3 linked regions of the Homo sapiens genome follow. The protein of the gene in region 1 interacts with the protein of each later gene in a pairwise test. Each region holds a gene or a part of one and is shown in the gene's direction. Other genes may lie near its edges. The genes, in order: CADPS, TTLL10 and C17orf67.

Region 1 (3,500 bases):
TTTGGAGCCACATAATCTCTGTCACAACTCAACTCTGTCATTGTAGCATGAAAGCAGTCATAGACAGTATGTAAATGAACGAGTGTAGCTGTGTTCCAATGAAACTTTGTTAACAAAACAGGTCCATAGTTTGCCATTGCCTGGTCTAGGCCTTTTAGATGCACCTTTTTAAAAAAAACCTTTATGGCCAAGTATGTTTAGGAAACAATACCTACCCCACTGACCTAGAATTTTGTGTAACTCTGTTTAACCCGGATTTTCCTAAATGTATTTGACAACCGTGTGCTTTTTTTAAAATGGGACATATACCCTGCAGGATAAATTATGGGAAATCTTGTGGGTTGCAAGTTTGTCAATTTCCACAAATGTTTGGCAAATTTTAGGTCTTATTTGAAAATGTTTGGCAGGCTTGGTGCCATCTCCATTCCCCAAATGGGAAGAGGGCTTGACTTGAGGCTCCAGAGGGTCAGTCTCAGACTCCCCTTTCTGAAAAAATAGAGACTCCTATATGGAGAGTTTGATGGTTATGGTTTGATGGTTTGAAAAGCTCCAGTAAAGCCTACTGCTGGATTTGCCTTGTTAGTTTCTTTCTTTCTTTCTTTCTTTCTTTTTTTAAGGAAATCATTTCGTTCATGCTAGTATTTTACATCTTTGGGATGCAGCAAACAGTATGGAGCAAAGTAGAGGGATGTTACAAGCACATTTTAGGAACTCCAGAACAAATATTCATGAGGCCTTTCCTCAGTTTGGAAGCCTTGACTTGCAGCCTATTTTTAAGCAGTTTTCTGAACTGAGACCCTCCTCTAATGTTATACTGTATAAGGCTCTCACTGATAAATTAATGCAAAATAGGCTTTTCTGCCCCCCTTCCACATCTGAGCCACAAGAGGAGTTTCCCTATTGCAGGGAGGTTAATAACCAGTAGCTCCTCCTTTGCAAATACCAAGAAATTTAAATTTTAGTTTGTTATTCTCCAGTTTATAACAGTCTCTTAATATGGCCCTACTGACTTTTCACTCATGAGGGTAGAACTGGATCCCTTGATGGTAAATTATTGAGAGCCTCTATTTTTTTTCAATGTTCAATACAATGAAGACAGTTGTGCTGGAGAATAGCTATTAAGAGGAAAAGGTTAAAATGAGTAATATTTACGTTTTAAAATAACAATGGTCTTGAAATAACATTTACTTACTTGCACTTAAATACGGAGACTACTACTACCAACACACATGGAAGAGAATAATTGGTATCCTTCACTATTCCTTGAAGAGCCCTAGATTTAGTGCCCATTTACTAGCCAGAAGTCAAGGGTTCAAACCTCTATGAACTTGTTTGCTCCCCTGCAAAACTGAAGTTTTAAAAATGTGCCTGTCCAGTGTCTGAGAATTGTCATGGAACTTCGTGATAATGTCACTAAGTCATTTTATAATCTGTTAAATTTCTTAAAAGTCAAACACGGCCGGGTGCGGCGGCTCACGCCAGTAATCCCAGCACTTTGGGAGGCCGAGGCGGGTGGATCACAAGGTCAGGGGATCGAGAACATCCTGGCTAACACGGTGAAACCCCGTCTCTACTAAAAATACAAAAAATTAGCTGGGCGTGGTGGTGGGCACCTGTAGTCCCAGCTACTCGGGAGGCTGAGGCAGGAGAATGGTGTGAACCCAGGAGGTGGAGCTTGCAGTGAGCCGAGATCGCTCCACTGCACTCCAGCCTGGGTGACAGACCGAGATGCCGTCTCAAAAAAAAAAATAATAAAAGTTTAACACATGACTGCTACTTCTTTGGGGGCATTAAATATTCTTAATACCATCAGAAATAAAGATAGACTCAAAAATCATCTTCATACCTGGAAATCTTAGTCTAGGGATGTTTTCTTGGGAATATTTTTACCAATTAAAAAAAAATTTGAACTCTTGCATGGGCAATTTAAAGGTCTGCAAATTGTGAATAAAGGAATAATAGTTGCGAATAATAACCTGAGAATTATGCAGATACGTGTGTGTTTTTTAGTAGCTTTTTGCTATCTAAAATTATGCTGTTAGTGAATATGATTGTGGTTTGTTCAATTCATACTAAATAGTATATGCCTTTCAGAGTCTGTGGAGATCTTTAAAAGTGCCAACTAAGGGCTGGGTGTGGTTGTTCACACTTGTAATCCCAACACTTTGGGGGGCCAAGGCGAGAGGATCACCTGAGGCCAGGAGTTCAAGACCAGTCTGGGCAACATAACCAGACTCCATCTCTACAAAATAAAAAAAGTAGCCAGGCATGGTGGCACAGCATGTAGTCCAAACTACTCAGGAGGCTGAGGTGGGAGGATTGCTTGAGCCCAGGAGTTCAAGGTTACAGTGAGCCATGATCCTGCCACTGTACTCCAGCCTGGGGTGACAGAGTGAGTCCCTATTAAAAAATAATAATAATAAATAAATAAATAAATAAATAAATAATAAAAACAGTGCTAACTAAAATACAAGCTACCACACACACTGTATCAGCCGATTTTTAAACAGAGTGTGGATGCCACGGGGCAGCTTTGCAGAATGGAATAAAATGGAGTGTAAAAAAGAGCTTGGAGACATGTTATGTGCTAAGAGGAGTGACTCTCTCCATGTTTCCTACAACGTGAATAGAAATAAAGTGTGAACTTCCATCTGACTACTTATTGGTGGGTTGATGAAGAAGCAGATTCATTTCTCTTCTTAGATTTTTTTTCCAAGTGAAGAATGATCTTTTTGGCATACTTCTCATCAAGCTCACCCCAAAACAAGAAACTAACTTAGGTAAATAGATTTAGTTTGCTCAGTCTTTTCCATTTTTGCCACAGAATCTTCCAATACATACATACACACACACAGCCTTTCTTTCAAACAATTGTTATCCTCAAGTAGTTCTGTTCTTCTTCTTTTCAAAATTTATAAGCACCTCGTTATAAGTAAAATGAGAAATGCATTGTAATGAAATGCAATGTAATGTTCAAAATAATTAGCATGCAAAATGCTGAAGAAAAATAGCAATCTGACAAGAAAATGCTACCAATGTATTGAGTTTGCTAAAAAGAGAATGAAAAATATCCTTTATTCTTCAGATTTTCTTATTTCAAAATATGGCCCTGTAAAAGAAAATAGATATCATCATTTAGGCTTGATACAATTAAGGTTATTTAAGATGAACAACAAAAACAACAACAACAAAAATAATTGAAGTTATTTGACGGAAAGGGTAAAATGGCTGAGTCCTATGGCAGCCTTTCCCTAGAAAGACAGTCTTCCATCTCTTCGAAAAGAGAAAAGGGAAGCTACATCTCTGTTTCCGTTAAGCCAGACACAGTCATGGTTAGAATCTCTATGAATTGGTGGACAATGTCATCTCTTTGCTTCTAACCATAGCTAAAGATAGTCAGCTTCTCAAAGACAGTCCCAAGTTGTCAATAAAATCTGGAGCCCATGGCCCTCTCATGGGTTTCCATCAGGACATGTAGTAGGGTCACCACTCACAGTTGG
Region 2 (3,730 bases), on another chromosome or scaffold:
TCTTGCTTAAGGTAGGTGCTTAGTGCTATACATTTTCCTCTGACCACCACTTTTGCTGCATCCATAAGATTTTGCGTGTTGTCTTCATTTTCATTTGTCTCAAAGTATTTTTATTTTTATTTTTTATTTTATTTGAGATGGAGTTTCGCTCTTGTCACCTAGGCTGGAGTGTAATGGCGCAATCTCAGCTCACTGCAGCCTCTGCCTCCCGGGTTCAAGCGATTCTCCTGCCTCAGCCTCCCGAGTAGCTGGGATTACAGGCACCTGCCACCACGCCTGGCTAATTTTGTTTGTATTATTAGTAGAGATGGGGGTTTCACCATGTTGGCCAGGCTGGTCTTGAACTCCTGACCTCAGGTGATCCGCCTGCCAAAGTGCTGGGATTATAGGCGTGAGCCATGATGCTCAGCTGCAAAGTATTTTAAATTTCCTTTGTAAGCTTTTCTTTGACCCATTGGTTGCTTAAGGGCCTGTTATTTAATTTCCACATATTTGTGATTTTTCCAATTTTCCTTCTGTTATTGACTTCTAATTTCATTCCATTGTGTCAGAGAACATACTTTATAATTTCAACCCTTTAAAAATTATTGAAAAATTATTGGAGCTGGTGTGTTGGCACATACCTGTAATTCCAGCTACTCAGGAGGCTGAGATGGAAACATTGCTTAAGCCCAGGAGTTTGAGTCCAGCCTGGGCAACACAGCAAAACCCCATCTTTAAAAAAACAACAAACTTACTATTCATTAAGTGGATCATTAAAAAACAAAAACAAAAAACACTTGAAACTTGTTTATGTCCCAGCATATGGTCTATCCTGGAGAATATCCATGTGCACTGGAGAAGGAGGTGTATCCTGTTTTTGGGTGTAGTGTTCTGTAGATGTCTGTGCCGAGACCAGCTCGGTCGGGGAGACCCTAACCCGGCGGCGCTAGAGGAATTAAAGACACACACAGAGAAATACAGAGGTGTGAAGTGGGAAATCAGGGGCCTCACAACCTTCAGAGCTGACAGCCCTGAACAGAGATTTACCCACATATTTAGTAACAGCAAACCAGTCATAGCATTGTTTCTATAGATATTCAGTTAACTAAAAGTATCCCTTACGGGAAACGAAGGGATGGGCCAAATTAAAGGAATAGGTTGGGCTAGTTAACTGCATCAGGAACACGCCCTTAAGACACAGATCGCTCCTGCTATTGTTTGTGGCTTAAGAACGCCTTTCAGCGGTTTTCCGCCCTGGGCGGGCCAGGTGTTCCTTGCCCTCATTCCCGTCAACCCACAACCTCCCAGCGTGGGCGTTAGGGCCATTGTGAACATGTCACAGTGCTGCAGAGATTTGTTTATGGCCAGTCTTGGGGCCAGTTTATGGCCAGATTTTGGGGGGGGGCCTGCTCCCAACATGTCTGTTAGGTCTGTTTGGTTTATAATGTTGTTCGAGTCTTCTATTTACTCGTTAATCTTCTGTCTCTGTATTGAAAGCGGGATATTCAGTTGTCTACTTCTCCCTTCAGATCTGTCAGTTTTTTGTATATTTCGAGGCTCTGTTGTTGGGTGTGTGTATGTTTATGATTATTAGATCTTCTTGGTTTATCGTTATAAAAATTTTCCTTTAATCTGCAGTAATAATTTTTGTGTAAAGTCTATTTTCTGTGATATGAGTGTAGACACTCCAGTTGGTATAAGTGTAGACACTCCAGTTGATATGAATGTAGACACTCCAGTTGGTATGAGTGTAGACACTCCAGTTGGTATGAGTGTAGACACTCCAGTTCGTATCAGTGTAGACACTCCAGTTGATATCAGTGTAGACACTCCAGTTGGTATGAGTGTAGACACTCCAGTTGGTATGAGTGTAGACAATCCAGTTGATATCAGTGTAGACACTCCAATTGATATCAGTGTAGACACTCCAGTTGGTATGAGTGTAGACACTCCAGTTGGTATGAGTGTAGACACTCCAGTTCGTATCAGTGTAAACACTCCAGTTGGTATGAGTGTAGACACTCCAGTTGATATCAGTGTAGACACTCCAGTTGGTATGAGTGTAGACACTCCAGTTGTTCATATCAGTGTAGACACTCCAGTTGGTATGAGTGTAGACACTCCAGTTGGTATGAGTGTAGACACTCCAGTTGGTATGAGTGTAGACACTCCAGTTCTACTTTGGTTACCGTGTGTGGTACATCTTTTTCCATCCCTTTACTTTCCACCTATTTTTGTCTCTGAAACTAAAGTATCTTTTGTAGATGGTATATCATGTTTTTTTAAGAAACTCCGTCAATGTCTATTAATTGGAAAGTTTAATTCACTTACATTTAATATAATTACTGATAAAGGGCCGGGCACGGTGGCTCACGCCTGTAATGCCAGCCCTTTGGGAGGCCAAGGCAGGTGGATCACAAGGTCAGGGATTGAGACCATCCTGGCTAACACGGTGAAACCCCGTCTCTACTAAAAATACAAAACATTAGCCAGGCGTGGTGGTGAGCAACTGTAGTCCCAGCTGCTCGGGAGGCTGAGGCAGGAGAATGGCGTGAACCCAGGAGGCGGAGCTTGCAGTGAGCCAAGATTGCGCCATTGCACTCCAGCCTGGGTGACAGAGCGAGACTCCGTCTCAAAAAATAATAATAATAATAATTACTGATAAGGTAGGATTTACATATGCTATTTTGTTATTTGTTTTCTATGTCTGTCTTTTTTTGTTCCTCAGTTTCTCCATTACTGCCTCCTATTGTTTTAGAGAGATATTTTCTAGTGTAGCTTTTTTTTTTTGAAACGGAGTTTCGCTCTTGTTGCCCAGGCTGGAGTGCAGTGGCGTGATCTCGGCTCACTGCAGCCCCCGCCTCCCGGATTCAAGCGATTCTCCTGCCTCAGCCTCCCTAGTAGCTGGGATTACAGGCGCATGCCACCACACCCGGCTAATTTTTTGTATTTTTAGTAGAGACGGGGTTTCACTATGTTGGCCAGGCTGATCTCAAACTGCTGACCTCAGGTGATCTACCCGCCTCAGCTTCCCAGGGTGCTGGGATTACAGGCGTGAGCCACCACGCCTGGCTTAGTGTAGCATTTTAATTACCTTGTCATTTATTTTACTATATGTTTTTGAGTTATTTTAGTGGTTGTCCTGAGGATTACCATTAATATTGTATCTTAATTTACTACAATTAGGGTGAGTGTGGTGGCTTATGCCTGTAATCCCAGTGCTTTGGGAGGCTGAGGCAAGAAGATCATATGAGGCCAGGCATTTGAAAGCAGCCTGGGCAACATAGTGAGACCCCATCTCTAAAAAACAAAATTAGCTCAGCATGGGAGTGTGCACCTGTAGTCCTCCTAGCTATTTAGGGGGCTGAGATGGGAGGATCACTTGAGCCCAGGAGGTCAAGGCTGCAGTGAGCCACAATCAAACCACATTACCCCAGCCTAGGTGACAGAACAAGACCCTGTTTCTAAAATAAAAAATGTTTTAAAATAAACAATTCAGTTTTTTATTAATACCAAGTTAATTTCAAAAGCATACAAAAACACACTGCTCCTAAAAGTATACAAAAACACTCCTCCTACACAGCCCCACCCCTCTCATGCTGTTGTCACAAATTACAGCTCAGTATATTTGTGTCCATCAACATGGATTCATAATTATTGTTGTATACAGTTGTCTTTTAGGACAAAACAATCACATACAAAAAAATACATGTATGCTGTCTCTTATATTTAATTACACAATGACCTT
Region 3 (3,730 bases), on another chromosome or scaffold:
GAAGTCTGGGATCACCAACACTCAGAGGTGGGCAGGGGAAGAGGAACCCTGAAAGGGCTGAGAAGGAATGCAGAGAGATAGAGAAGCCAAGAGAGTGGGGGTGGCAGAGCAAGGCGGGGAGGCATAGGAGGGGCTGGGGTGAAGGAAGGGCAGCATGTGCACAACTGTGATGGGGAGGAGGATGCCTGGAGGGAGGGATCCTGTTGGCGGCTGGCGGGTTGGGGGTGGGGGCTCTGGCTGGCCCCCTGTGCTTTTGGCATGATGCCTGGAGCGGCCATTCTGCAGCTCTTCCTCAGGGACCCGGCAGGGGCTGGGGGAGCTGGTTGAAGAGTCCTCAAAGCAGTGGCTCCTGCTCAAGGTGCTCGAGAGGCAGCTCTAATGACTCCCACATCTGCCCCCTGACATTTTCTGTGCCAGCATCTGCACCTGGCTCTTTTGAACTCTGTCTGTGGAATAACAGTCTTTGTCCTAACTGAGGCATTGTAGATGTGGGTGAACAGGTGGGTTTGAATTGCTGCAGCCCGTTGTTGCAACTGTTGTTGCCAGGCTAGACTCTGGCCCTAAAACCCTGTTTTGTGTGGTCCTTCCCCTGCTCAAAAACTTCTGAAAGCTTCTCCTCTGTTTGCTTTTTCCCACTTGTGGTCATCACCTCCCTTAATCCTTGACAGCCCTCTGCTTGCTTCCAACTTTGCAATTTTACTGAATATCTGGCTTTTTCTGGTTTGTTTTGCTCATCTTTTATAGGCTTGACCACCACCTGCTCCTCTTAACTGCCTCGAACCTACCTGATTAGTTTCCATGTAACTCCTTCTTGCCTCAGAACCTATTGCTGAGCCACCATCCCATCCTCCATGTCCCTCTCAGAGACACTTCATCCAATGTCCAGAATCCTCAGGCATTCAGTCCAGTTTGGAAAAGTGGTCATATGTTTTACAATTGAAATGTGAAACAAACATGCAGTCAATTATTGGGTGGCTAGTCTACACCAGTAGTTCTCATCCATAGGTGATTATGCCCCCTCATCCCCAGGGACATTTGACAATATCTGAAGACATTTTTGGTGGTTACACCTGTGTGGGGCATTGCTTTTGGCACCCAGTGGGTACAGACCAGGGATGCTGCTAAACACCCTACACAGGGCACAGGGCAGCCTCCACCACCCTCTGGCCCAAAATGTCAGTAGTGCCAAAGGAGAGGAACCAAGTCTACACATTGCCAAGTAAACTTTTTCTTGTTTACTCTCTGTCACGCTGTGTGTGTCTCTCTCTGTCTCTCTCTATAATTGCACTCACTTGAACACACACAGAATTGGTTGAATTAACAAATAGTTTCTGGTATCGTATTTTTTCTAGAAATGTGTTTCTTAACTTTGGTTACATTCTGGAACCACCTGGGGAATTTAAATTCCGATGCCTGGGTCCCACTCCCAGAGGGGTGGCCTGGGGTGGGACCTGGGTATGGGGGATGGGGCCAAAGCCCCAGTGATGCCAACCTGCAGCCGAGGCTGAGAACCACTGGGCTAGGCCATCTGGGAGAAATCAGCCACGTGTGTACCAGCTCCTGTGGTCTAGTTGGGAACATAAAAGCATTTAGAAAGCTGTTAAATGTTGAACTGGGTGGTATGGAGAGTATCTTAGTTGTTTAGACAAAAAGAGAGAGTGAGAGGGTCAAGTGGTGCGTGCTGATCAAGATGTGCACTTAATTAGATTTTATATTGACCATGCCCTACTAAGCACCAGGGACTGAGGATGAAAGATAAACCAGACATTCTTCCTTACTCAAGGTGCCCATTGTGTGGAGGTGGAGCCAGAGTGCCCCAGCCTGATTTGGGCTCACTAACGAGGTTATCTGGTACAATGGACTGCGGCTCTGCAAGAAGAGAGTCTCGAGCCCCAGCCTGATTTGGGCTCACTAACGAGGTTATCTGGTACAATGGACTGCGGCTCTGCAAGAAGAGAGTCTCGAGCTCCAACTGGAAGGAAAGGGGAGGCTGGGAAGGCTTCCCAGAGGAGGTGCCCACCCAGCTGTGGCTTGAAGGATGACCAGGAGTTCTCAGGCAGGGCAGGGGGTAGGGATGAGGCAGGAAGAATATTCCACCCAGTGCATTTCCAGTCCATATTCTGCCGCTAACTAGTTGTGGACTTTGGGTAAGTCACTTCCTCTTTTGGAAGCCTAGTTTTTTCATCTATAAAATGCAGAGTTTGGCTGGAATCTGGCCTAGATTCCAGAATGTCTAATTCCAGGTCTCATATTGTAGGGCTCTGGATAGAACCTTGGGGCTGACACAGGTTTCCTGGTGCCAGTCTGCAATGTGACAGAAGAGCCAGAGGCAGCAGGATACCAACCCAAGCGAGGAGTCAGGCAGTTTATTCTGAGGCCCCTGGAGGGGTATCCCTAGAAACCACAGGCCTCCTCACCTCATGCTGGCCCTGCGGCTGGGAGTACTCCACATCCTCGACTTACCATTTGACCCACTCACGCCTCTTGGGTCTCCTTGTTGACTTCTTCTTTTATGGATTTACTGAAAGCAAAATTAATAATGCCAGTCAGTGGCATGTAAAAAGAGGTAATTTACTGCATTTAACTGTGACTGTCAAAATGATCCTGGCCCTGCACTCCCAGTTGGAGCATAAGAGGCAGTGGCCTCAGGTTTGTCCTTGGGTGGTGAGGAGCCGATAAGCCTGGACCTCTGGCCAGGGGAGGCCAGAGGCTGGCATTAGAGCTGCCATACGGGCCCACATCTTCATAGCCTGGGAAGGAGGGAGTTCAGAGGCTAAGGCCTTTGCCTCCTGGGAGCCAGCCCTTCTGGCTCTTTGCCTTTTGCCAAGACCTCCTCACCCTCCCTGTTTCTGAGTGTAGGCCAAGAACAGCTGCGCACAGATGTCCCTTTGCTTGGGAAGAGGGTGGGATGGATGCACCATGCTGTGAATTTGGCTGCCAGTATTGTGTATGTGTGTATGTGTGTGTGAATGTGTGTGAGGGGTGTGTGTATGAGGGTATGTATGAGGGTGTGTGTGAGGGGTGTGTGTGAGGGGTTTGTGCATGTGAGGGGTTTGTGTGTGTGAGGGATGTGTGAGGGGTGTGTGTGTGAGGGTGTGTGTATTCGAATGTGAGAATTGTATGAGGGGTATGTGTGTGAGGAGTATGTGAAGGTGTGTGAGGGTGCATGAGGAGTGTGGGAGAGCGATGCATGTGTGTGAGGATGTATGTGAGGGGTGTGATGGTGTGTGTGAGAGTGTGTGTGTGAAGGGTGTGTTCAAGGAGTGTGTGTGAGGTGGGGGTGTGAGGGGTGTGCGTGAGGGGTCTGTGCAAGGAGTGTGAGGGTGTGTGTCAGAAGTGTGAGGGGTGTGTGAGGGTGTGTGTCAGAAGTGTGAGGGGTGTGTGAGGGGTGTGTGTGAGGGATGCATGTGTGAGGGTGTATGAGGGATGTCTGGGGTGTGTGTGTGAAGGGTCTGTGCAAGGATTGTGTGTGAGGTGAGTGAGGAGTATGTGTGAGGAGTATGTGTGAGGGGTGTGTGAGGGTGTGTGTAAGGGTGTGTGTAAGGGGTGTGTGTGAGAGGTGTGTGAAGGTGCAGGTGTGTGTGAGGGTGTATGTGTAAGGGGTGTGTGAGTGTGTGAGGGTGTATGTGTAAGGGGTGTGTGAGGGGTCTGTGTATGAGGTGTGTGTGTAGAGGGGTGTGTGTGAGGGTGTATGTGTGTAGAGGGGTGTGAGGGTGTATGTGTGAGGAGT

The links.
Region 2: the proteins of CADPS (region 1) and TTLL10 interact in a two-hybrid assay, tested with the Homo sapiens proteins (one large-scale study listed by BioGRID).
Region 3: the proteins of CADPS (region 1) and C17orf67 interact in a two-hybrid assay, tested with the Homo sapiens proteins (one large-scale study listed by BioGRID).

The regions. Positions count from the first base shown.
Region 1 is NC_000003.12:62,487,417-62,490,916, reverse strand, and holds part of CADPS (calcium-dependent secretion activator 1), read left to right. Parts: intron 1-3,500.
Region 2 is NC_000001.11:1,190,709-1,194,438, forward strand, and holds part of TTLL10 (inactive polyglycylase TTLL10), read left to right. Parts: intron 1-3,730. UniProt on the Homo sapiens protein: Inactive polyglycylase.
Region 3 is NC_000017.11:56,809,708-56,813,437, reverse strand, and holds part of C17orf67 (uncharacterized protein C17orf67 precursor), read left to right. Parts: intron 1-3,730.